Linked DNA regions of Homo sapiens: regions 1 and 2 are each reported to be linked to region 3. Evidence: microRNA targets listed by miRTarBase, many of them from high-throughput screens and not tested one by one. Region 3 holds a microRNA gene; each other region holds the end of a gene's coding sequence.
Evidence for each region. The annotated mature microRNA hsa-miR-4676-5p reads GAGCCAGUGGUGAGACAGUGA and lies in region 3 at 1,100-1,120, opposite strand. An mRNA with a match to its seed (bases 2 to 7 or 8) in the 3' UTR can be bound and repressed. Matches are read on the target gene's strand: a 7mer-m8 pairs with bases 2 to 8, a 7mer-A1 pairs with bases 2 to 7 and ends in A, and an 8mer does both.

Region 1: miRTarBase lists CHCHD4 as a target of hsa-miR-4676-5p. Seed matches in the 3' UTR shown: 7mer-m8 at 1,429-1,435.
Region 2: the mRNA of BBX is a reported target of hsa-miR-4676-5p. Seed matches in the 3' UTR shown: 7mer-m8 at 1,534-1,540.

Annotation. Positions count from the first base shown.
Region 1 is chr3:14,110,276-14,113,633 of GRCh38, reverse strand. CHCHD4 (coiled-coil-helix-coiled-coil-helix domain containing 4) reads left to right here. Exons shown (of 3, transcript NM_001098502.2): 3 at 440-1,557. The coding sequence ends at 747. Among named protein-coding and RNA genes, the nearest start is that of CHCHD4, 13 kb to the left of the region's middle.
Region 2 is chr3:107,805,161-107,808,160 of GRCh38, forward strand. It overlaps BBX (BBX high mobility group box domain containing), which reads left to right. Exons shown (of 18, transcript NM_001142568.3): 18 at 210-3,000. The coding sequence ends at 297. Among named protein-coding and RNA genes, the nearest start is that of LINC00635, 71 kb to the right of the region's middle.
Region 3 is chr10:72,719,158-72,722,157 of GRCh38, reverse strand. MIR4676 (microRNA 4676) reads right to left here and starts at 1,129; the gene lies at 1,058-1,129. All of the region lies in intron 1 of MCU (mitochondrial calcium uniporter), which reads right to left.

The sequences.
Region 1 (3,358 bases), not on the chromosome of region 3:
AGGGGGGCAGGGAGCATGGGGGTGGGGTGGTCCTGATCATCCATATGGGGAGGGGGATTGGAAAGAGGAGATCAATACCTCAGTTCCTTAAAGTGTTTGGGCTTTCAAAAAGCTCCTCACTAACCATCCAAGTGATCTCCTCTTCTTTGGGCTAAATGGGTCCCGGTATTTAATTCTTGGAGCACAGCCTCAGAGCACTGAGAGGTGGCTTAGAATAAATTAGTGTCACACGTGGAGAAATATGTCATTGGTGGCTTCTCTCCCAGGTGGGCCAAGGAATGCTGGATATGTGCTAGGCTTTAAACCTAATCCAAATCGAGGTGTGGGTCCATAGGCAACAATAGTTCCTGTTCTGCACCCCCTCAGTAGCCTGTGAGGACTGGACTAGTTTTGTATTTTCTGAAACTTTAGAGAACATCTCTCTATCTTCCTGTTCTAGGATTGATACTGCCAAATGGAAACATTAACTGGAACTGCCCATGCCTTGGGGGAATGGCCAGCGGTCCCTGTGGAGAACAGTTTAAGTCAGCCTTTTCCTGCTTCCACTATAGCACGGAGGAGATCAAGGGGTCAGACTGTGTAGACCAGTTCCGGGCCATGCAGGAATGCATGCAGAAATACCCAGACCTCTATCCCCAAGAGGATGAGGATGAGGAAGAGGAAAGAGAGAAGAAGCCAGCAGAACAAGCAGAAGAAACAGCTCCCATTGAGGCCACTGCAACCAAAGAAGAGGAGGGATCAAGTTAATGAAGGCCACAAGGCACTGGGCACCAGTCCTTTTGGAGTGGACCTTTTGCAAAAGGCCTTGTCATCACCTTCCAAGAAAGTTTCCTTCTGTTGTCCTGTGCATTATAATATACAAAATAACTTATTTTGATGATCAGAGGTCTTGAGGTCTTGACATCTTGACATATACACTGAAAAAAATGGGGGTTGTATGTATGTGTGTCCTACCCAAACCTGTGGCCGCCACTTTTGAATTCTCAGATTGCCCTGAATTTTGCCACTTTTAAATAATGTGCTGAATAAGCTCAGCAACTAAAAACCATTACCCAAGAACGTTTCTTGTGAGTGAGCTGATTTATTCTGATTCATTATATTCCTTTTGGTAGATTTTATACCCCTTGGGGAAATAATACAACAAAAACATCTCTTAAAAATGCTGGGATGGGGCCATATCTACTAGCAGAGGCCAGATGGTCAGATATGATTTCTGCAAACCCATCTTGACCTTGAGTATGTGAAGGGGTACTGTACTTTATTCCTGATACATTTTGGTTTCCATGTAGGTGTTGAGCTCCTGGTTTTCTGTGTTTGGATGATGAAGATTTGGACCCTTCCATTCATAATCCCTTTCTAAGTGAAGGGAGAGGCTGGCTTGGCTGTTCCTTGTTATTCCGAAAGCCCTGGTTTGGGGCCCATGTTCACACTGGCTCTCAGTCTAGTCAGGTGCAATGTTCTTGAGAGGTGGGGACCTAATTATTACCAGAGTAGCAGCAAGAGAGGAAACGTTGTGAATTAAGTATTCAATTAAAAGGAAACATGATTTCTACCTGATTTTGAATGTGTCCTTTGTTTTCACTAGTTAAAAATGTTTTCTATATAAAAAAGTATAAATTATGAACAATTCAATTGAAATTCCTCTTGAAAGATATTGGTAAACCAATTTGAGTCCGTTAAAATTTTCTGTGTTGAGTTCAAAGGAAGCTTACTTATTTTATATGTGAGCAGATGCCTTCACACAGACATTACAGTTAGTCTATGAGGTGGGGAAGGCTCTTCCTGTTTGAAAATAGATTAACTTGCCTAAGGTAACTGCTAGACAGTTTTCAGGCTGTGGCATAGTAATGCCTCATTTGTCTCAAATGTGTTAAGTTATTTATGTAAAAAATTGCCTTAAAACTTAATAGCTTGAAACGAGGAATCTGGGCATGGCTTACCTGGGTTCTCTGGCTCAGTGTCTCATGAGGCTATGATACTTGTAGTCATCTCAAGGTGGGACAGGCCTTTCAAGATCGCTCGAAGTGGTTTCTGGGAGGGTTCAGTGGGTTGAATCTTGTGGGCTGTGGATTGAGGGCCTCAGTGCCTTACTGGCTGTTGGCCAGACACCTCCTTCAGTTCCTTGCCACATGGCCTTTGCCTTAAAGGGTCAGCTCACAACATGGGAGGTGGCTTCCATCAGAGCAAGCGAGAGAGCAAGATGGATGCCAGAGCCTTTTCATCACCTAATCTCAAAACGGACATTCCATAACTTTACCATAGTCTATTTGTTTGTTAGAAGTGAGACACAGCCCACACTCAAGGAGAGGGACACAAGAATACGAGTAACAGGAAGCTGCCTGCCACACTGGAGAATGAGGCGCCACCATGTTAAAGCTTGAAGGCATGGTTAAAATGCAAGGATTTGTGGTTGGGAGGTGTATGGAGGTAGAGAACTGCTTTCTATATCCAGAGCTTTTTTAAACCTTGCTTGATTAGGAGCTAAGAACCTGGAGCTGGCCAAGCATGGAAGGCATGACAGACCCTAACGACTTCTTTTAACAGAGTTTTGCACATTTAAAAACGATATTTCTTTTGTTAAAATTTTGGTCACAATCAAGGTGTTACTGTTTTGTGACCATGTCATGTACCCCATTTATTTGATGCATTCATGGAATCTACAGTTCCAAGCCCTAGGGACATAGAGTGATTCATTCATGGTACTGCCCATGAAGCTACAATCTAGCCAGGAAGTCAACATTTACTAGAAAGCAGAAAGGAATGGATGAGTGTTACATAATGGTGCTGGATTTTCAGGGCTGGGTTCTTCCAGCCATGGTAACTTACAGCAGAGATTCTCGAACTGTCTGCCCAACTCGACTTGGGTTAGGCAAAAGGTTCCATCCTTTTCCACTTATCACTGGAAAAACAAATTGGTGATAAGGAATTGGCACCGTATAAGCAATTGGAAGTGGGTGGAGATTATGCTTTACTACAAGGGGTTTGGATAATTCATATTTAAGTTGCTGTGTATCTTTAAATGTAAGAACACCAATAGATCAAAGAGTTAATGATTCAGATAAATGCAAGTTGATGATTTTTAAAGAACAGCAATAATTGAAACAAAGGGCTGCTCAAAATAACACTGATTTGGAAATGCAATTACCAACACAATGTTTTATGTCTGTTTTGTTTTGTTGTGTTGTGTTTTAAGAGAGTTTCGCTGTGTTGTCCAGGCTGGAGTGCAGTGGCATAATCATGGCTCACTGCAGGCTCAACCTCCTGGGCTCAAGCGATCCTCCTGCCTTAGCCTACCAAAGCGCTGGAATGCTCAGCCTGTTTTGTATTTTTGTGTTATAGGCAAGTGCAGCATATCAGC
Region 2 (3,000 bases), not on the chromosome of region 3:
ACAGAATGGGAAGGAGGAAGGGGAAAAAAAGGATAAGGAAGGGGACAGAAGAGAAAAAACTCTAAAGCAAAAACAGTTTTCATTAAATGATGTAAGTAACAGCAGTAACTGTTAAACAAGATATTGGAACACACTTGTTATTCATCGTCCTCTCCTGTCTCTAATAACATATGCTGAATAAGTGACTTTTTCTTCCTTTTATTTTACAGAGGTCAGAGGTCAACTCCGCTCACCCATGATGGACAGCCAAAAGAAATGCCGCAGGCTCCTGTACTTATTTCCTGCGCTGACCAGTGAAGCGCCCTTTCATTGTAAAACATTGTGCTTTACCTACTACCCTAGCCTTGTCTTTACCGAGGGATGCTAGTGAGTCCAAGTGGTGGAAAATATAGACTGCAAACAAGTGCTTGTTGCCCCACACGGCCCAGATTCACTTGAAGCAGAAGTTAGCATCCTGGGCCAGTTTGTTCTCTCAGAACCCAGAATCTTTGAGGGTAAGGTTATCTGTCTGATACTGAGCAGAAACAGAATGATCCTGGAGCTTTGCTTTCTATTGAAGGCTTTTGACGGTAATAGGTGGTAACTTGGTAAAAGGCTGCCTTTACTGTAGCTCACCCAGCATCTCTTTTACCAACCAGAGAGTGTGAAACTAGTTTCATATATTACCTAGTTATTCTTTCAAAACAAAACAAAAAAAAAACAAAAACTGACGCACTGCACTAGTTATTATTAGATATTCTTAGTCTTTTTTGTACATGGAGATTTAAGTTTAAGATGGTTTATATAATAGGTTATACCTACATTTATATTGTAGAATAAATATTAAAAAGCCTGTTCCAGAGACTCCCAAGCAGCCTGGGCAGGCAGATGTACCATTGTTAGTGGTGTATGCTCGGCCTCGTGGTCCATATATTCTGCACTTTTATATTTGCCACCAGAATGGTAGTTTGCTGGCAAAAAAAAAAAAAAAAGAGAGAGAGAAAAAATTACAACTCTTACAATCTGAATTTTTTTCTTAGCCTTGAGTGACCAAGAAGAATTTGCTTGAGGCAAATTGTGGCAAATATTTTCCCAGACAGGGGAAGAGTCCTGCAGATTACAGATTACTGGTGTTTTCATGCCTTGAGGATTCTTTTATTTTTACATAGGGGTCTAAGTGACCAATGGATTGTTCATACAAACAAAAAAAAAGACAAAAATATTATTCAGAAGTGACCTTAGTATTACTTCACTATTCTAAACACATTGAAGACACTCACTTCATGTGGACTTGGAGCTACAGACCTTTTACATCCATCACAGATTGGCTGGACGGGTTGCAATTGCTATGCACAGCCTGATTGGCACTGCAGGTTTTTAGAGCCATTTTGAGTTTGTGTTGTTTAGGAGGTACTGAGTCAATGATGAGGGAGGTATGCCTGACCAGAGTGGGACTCTCAGTCATAGATCCACCTGCAAGTCTCTGTTTCCTTTTTGTGTTTTGTTGCTTTTGAACATAAAACCAACCATACATAAGCAGCGCCAAGTGGATTAACTGGCTTAGAACATTCAACATATTGACTTAACCACCTGACATTCACAGTGTCTTGTTTCCTAGCAACAGATGCAAAGTGATAAATCAAAATTAGTCTGAGGCTACAGATTTTACAGGGTATTTGTTCTATAGCACAAAGTATTTCCCCACTCTTGCGTCACAGCACAAACTACCAAATTTTAATTATTGGATTCCAGCAATAATTTTTAATGGTTTTCAAACTGGCGGAATTTTGACAGTGCTAGTTCGAGTTTGAAGCTTTTGAATTAGATCTCTAAATGGTGACAGTTTACATGGTTTTATCTAGCTTTCTTATTTATACTTGACTGAATTGTAATGATTTTTTTTCTAATTGTAATTTGACGTAATAGCCATACAAAAAATGACTCTATTCATACTAGGTTTAGCTTCTCATGGTTGTAGATATTACTTCAGTTCCGGTGCTGGAAAATATGTACAACATACTAACAGGATTGAAAAAAAAATAGAGGTTTTTCTTCTTGTTTTTTTTTCCAAAGCAGGTAAAGAGGGTAGCAAAGCATCGGAATGATGTGCTCAAAAATGCATATTCCTGGTGGGGATGGAGGAAGAAGGCATTAGTAAAAGGTTAATCAAACGTTACAACTTAACCCCATTCATGTAGGAATAAATCAAGTGAGCAGTTCCAGACTTTTGCATAATATTTTTACTATGATGCTGTTTTATTAATATTTTCTAAATTTCAAAACAAAAAGTGAATGTTTGAAATTGCTGGGTCCCGATGTTGGTGGCTGTTGGAGTTTTGGACCACTCGCTAGCAGTGATTTGAAGATTATAATTAGCTAAAATCCAAAACAAAAAACCAACAACAAAAATTGTATGGTGCGGAACATGCACCTTGACAATGGTACTAACTTGTTATTCTATAGAACACGTTAGAATAGATCTATTTTTGCCAGAGCACCCTCCTTCAGTCCTCCGATTACATTTCACTAGAGTTCCTTACGAGATTGCTGTATATTCCTGGGACCTTTTTTAAAAAAAAAAAAAGCAAAACAAAAGATTACTTTTTTTCTATGTGATTAATATCTTACTTGATCTGCTTTTCCTAAACCTCAGTGGCTTTTCCCTTAGGCAGGGTTGGGGGTGGGAGGGCAACTTACTGGAGATGACTGTTTTCAGATACTTTAAAACAAACCTTTTTGTAGAAATGCTTAATTTTTAAGCGGTTAGGCACTGAGAGTAGCAGAAATCCTGCAAAGCTTTATAGTTCCTTAGACTCACCTTGTCGATTCTCTGAGTAAAGTCTTGATTTCAATAATTGTGCTTCTCATGCCCTGAAACTGCTGGAGAGGAGTGTTGTTATTTTCAGGTAACAACATTCGTTAGCACAAATATTTCAGACCAATATTAGTGCTCTCCACCCCACCTTTTGTTATCATTTTCATTTCATTTCTCTCATTCTTTTTTATTTTGGAAAATCATAT
Region 3 (3,000 bases):
ATGTTATACTAATCTACACGTTAATATTTATACCAAGAATTCCCTATAAACCCAATTTATCTTCAAATAAAGTGTATAAATTCCATTGTTTCATAACTTAGCACAGATCTTCAAACCCACAATGATGTTACTGTGAGAACAATATACTATCAAATGTACACTTAACCATAAATATTGTTGCATTCCCCATAAGGAGCCTAAGTGGATAGTAATTCAAGTTGCAATTACCAATAAGAGGCCCAAACTGATTTGTTTATATGTATCACAGATATTTTCGTTTCAAACAAAATGAAATGCTTCTTTTTAAGTCTCAACAGCAAATATAACCATTATGCCCACCCACAGATGACATTGCCTAGAAATAGCAGTAATGCATCACTACAGCAAGGCACTAGATGACTACAAAAACACTGTAGTGTATATTAAAATCATCTCAGAACAACCAATAAAATAAAATTTTCATGCAAGGAGATCATGGAAGACCTTACTGAGAATATAATATTTCAGCAGAGACTCAAGAGGGAAAAGAAATAAGAAAACCTGTATATATTCAGGAGAAAAGCATTCTAATGATAGAAAACTGCAGTGCAAAAATCCTATGAGGTAGGTGCATGTTCAGCATGTTTGAGGAATAGCAAGGAGGTCAGTATCACAAAATGGAGTGGGCAAGAGGGAAAGTGGCAGCAGATGGGAGTCAGACGGGGAGCCAAATGTTCAACAGTGATGTGCTGAAGCCGATATTGACTGGGGAGCAGATTGCTGTACATTCTAGAACTTTGAATCAGCCAGAGTGGGAGTAATTATACCAGTAAAACAGGCAAATGCTACAAATCAGAACCTTTTCCCCCTCCAGAGAGCCAGTTTATTGTCACTACCTGTAGGCCCCTTGAAGAACTTTGTCTTTTACTGAGTGAGATCAGAAGCTACTGAATAAGTCTCCTTCTGCCTGATGTCATCATTCCCACTGCTGAATTACGACCAGAGGTAAGAAAGAACAAAAGCAGGGAGACTAATTAGAAAGCTGTTAATATAATCTAGGTGAGATACATTGTTAGCATGAACCAAAGAGCCAGTGGTGAAACAGTGAGAAGTAATCAACTCACTGTCTCACCACTGGCTCTTTCATTCAGGCTCTGGATATAAAGAACTATTCTTACTTGGATCAGTATGTAGCAACAATTACTAAGCTTCCTGTCTAGAAATCAGTATCTAACTCTAACCTAAACATGTCATTCCTGGTTCTGAATTAAGACTGTTAGTTGGATGTATAAAGTACTTCAAGAAGCTCAAATAACCAGGAGTCTTAGATGCACGTTACATATCTTCAGCTATTAAGGGTTCTATTATCATTTCAATTGATCAACATATACATTTGTTGAACATCTATTATAAGACACTGCAGAGAATACAAGTAAAATCTGTAATCCAAGCCCTTTCCTCAAGGAGGTTACAATCTGAAGTTTAAACTAAAGCATCCGTATATAAAAAGATAGATTCAACACAATGGAAGTATAAAATGTGTGGCAGGGCTAAGGAGTATTCTATAAATTGGAAAGGAGAAGGAAGAAGTCACTGAACAGATAGGACTTGAGCTGTGCCTTGAAGGATGGATAGAGTGAGATGATGAGAAAGGAACAAACGGAACAAGTCAGGGCCTAATAGTCAGTGGATCTGCAAAGTGAAAGGGCTAAGAAAAAGGTGGGAATGCACTTGGTGATTAAGGAGTAATCTATTCATGGCATTCAGGAGCATGGGGAGACAGAGGTTACAACTGGGAAGTATGCAGACATATACCTGAATTCCTAATTCCATCACTTACTAGCTTGAGCAAGTTACATAGAACCTTCCTGTCTTTATTTCTTCAGCAGTAGAAATTATAGTACCTACTTTATAGGACTGGTGCACAGAATAAATGAAATAAAATCATGTATGTATGGCATGTCACACAACCTGAAAGTTAGTAAGCAGTCACTGGTTATCAGAAACATTATTGGCCAGGCACAGTGACTCATGCCTGTAATCCCAGGCCATAGTGGAAGGATTGCTTGAGGCTAGGAGTGCAAGACCAGCTGGGCAACCTAGTGAGACCTTGTCTCTCCAAAAAAAAAAATTTAATTAGATGGGCGTAGTATTTTGCACCTGTAATCAGTCCCAGTTACTCAGGAGGCTGAAGTGGGAGGGTCACTTGAGGCCAGGAGCTCAAGACCAGCCTGTGCCACACGGCAAGACTCCCATCTCAATCAATCAACTAATCAATCAATAAAAATGATTGGGAAGTGGCAATGGTTAATGGGCACAAAATAATTAAAAGAATGAATAAGACCTAGAATTGTATAGCACAACAGGGTGACTATAGCCAATAATAATTTAATTGTATATTTTAAAATAACTAAGAGAATATAATTGTATGTTTGTAATATAAAGGATAAATGCCTGAGGTGATTTATCCTCAAGTCACTGGAAAAACCAAAAGTGACAATAAGAAAAATCACAAAAAGAGCTCTGTTTGGGAAGAAAATTCTACATTCTGGTTATGTTAAGTGATACCTTAAAGCCAAAAGAACATGTAAAATACACACACAACCAAGACTACAGCTCACTTGCTGATGTAACAATCAGTGGGAAGGAACACATACCAGCACTCGTAAACACATGAATATTCCAAATGCACAACTATTTGACCGATCATTCTTTACTGTACTAAAAGAATACCTGAACGTTTTGACTTGGTGAATCAAAACAGACCAAAAGGAAAAGATGTCCTTCTTTGGGGCATCTCAAAAACCTGGTTACAATAACAACAGATTATTAACATCAGCTACTTTATTCTTCTTATAATACAAATAAGACTAAGACTGTAACAGCTCCAGTAACATAATGGTACCTTGATAATCCTATAATTCTGACAGCATATATTCTAAGATAAAAGGTTCATTTGCTCAACTGGTTCTCTACATATCCTTTAAATGTTAACAGTGAAATGCTGTGTGTTTTCCAGAA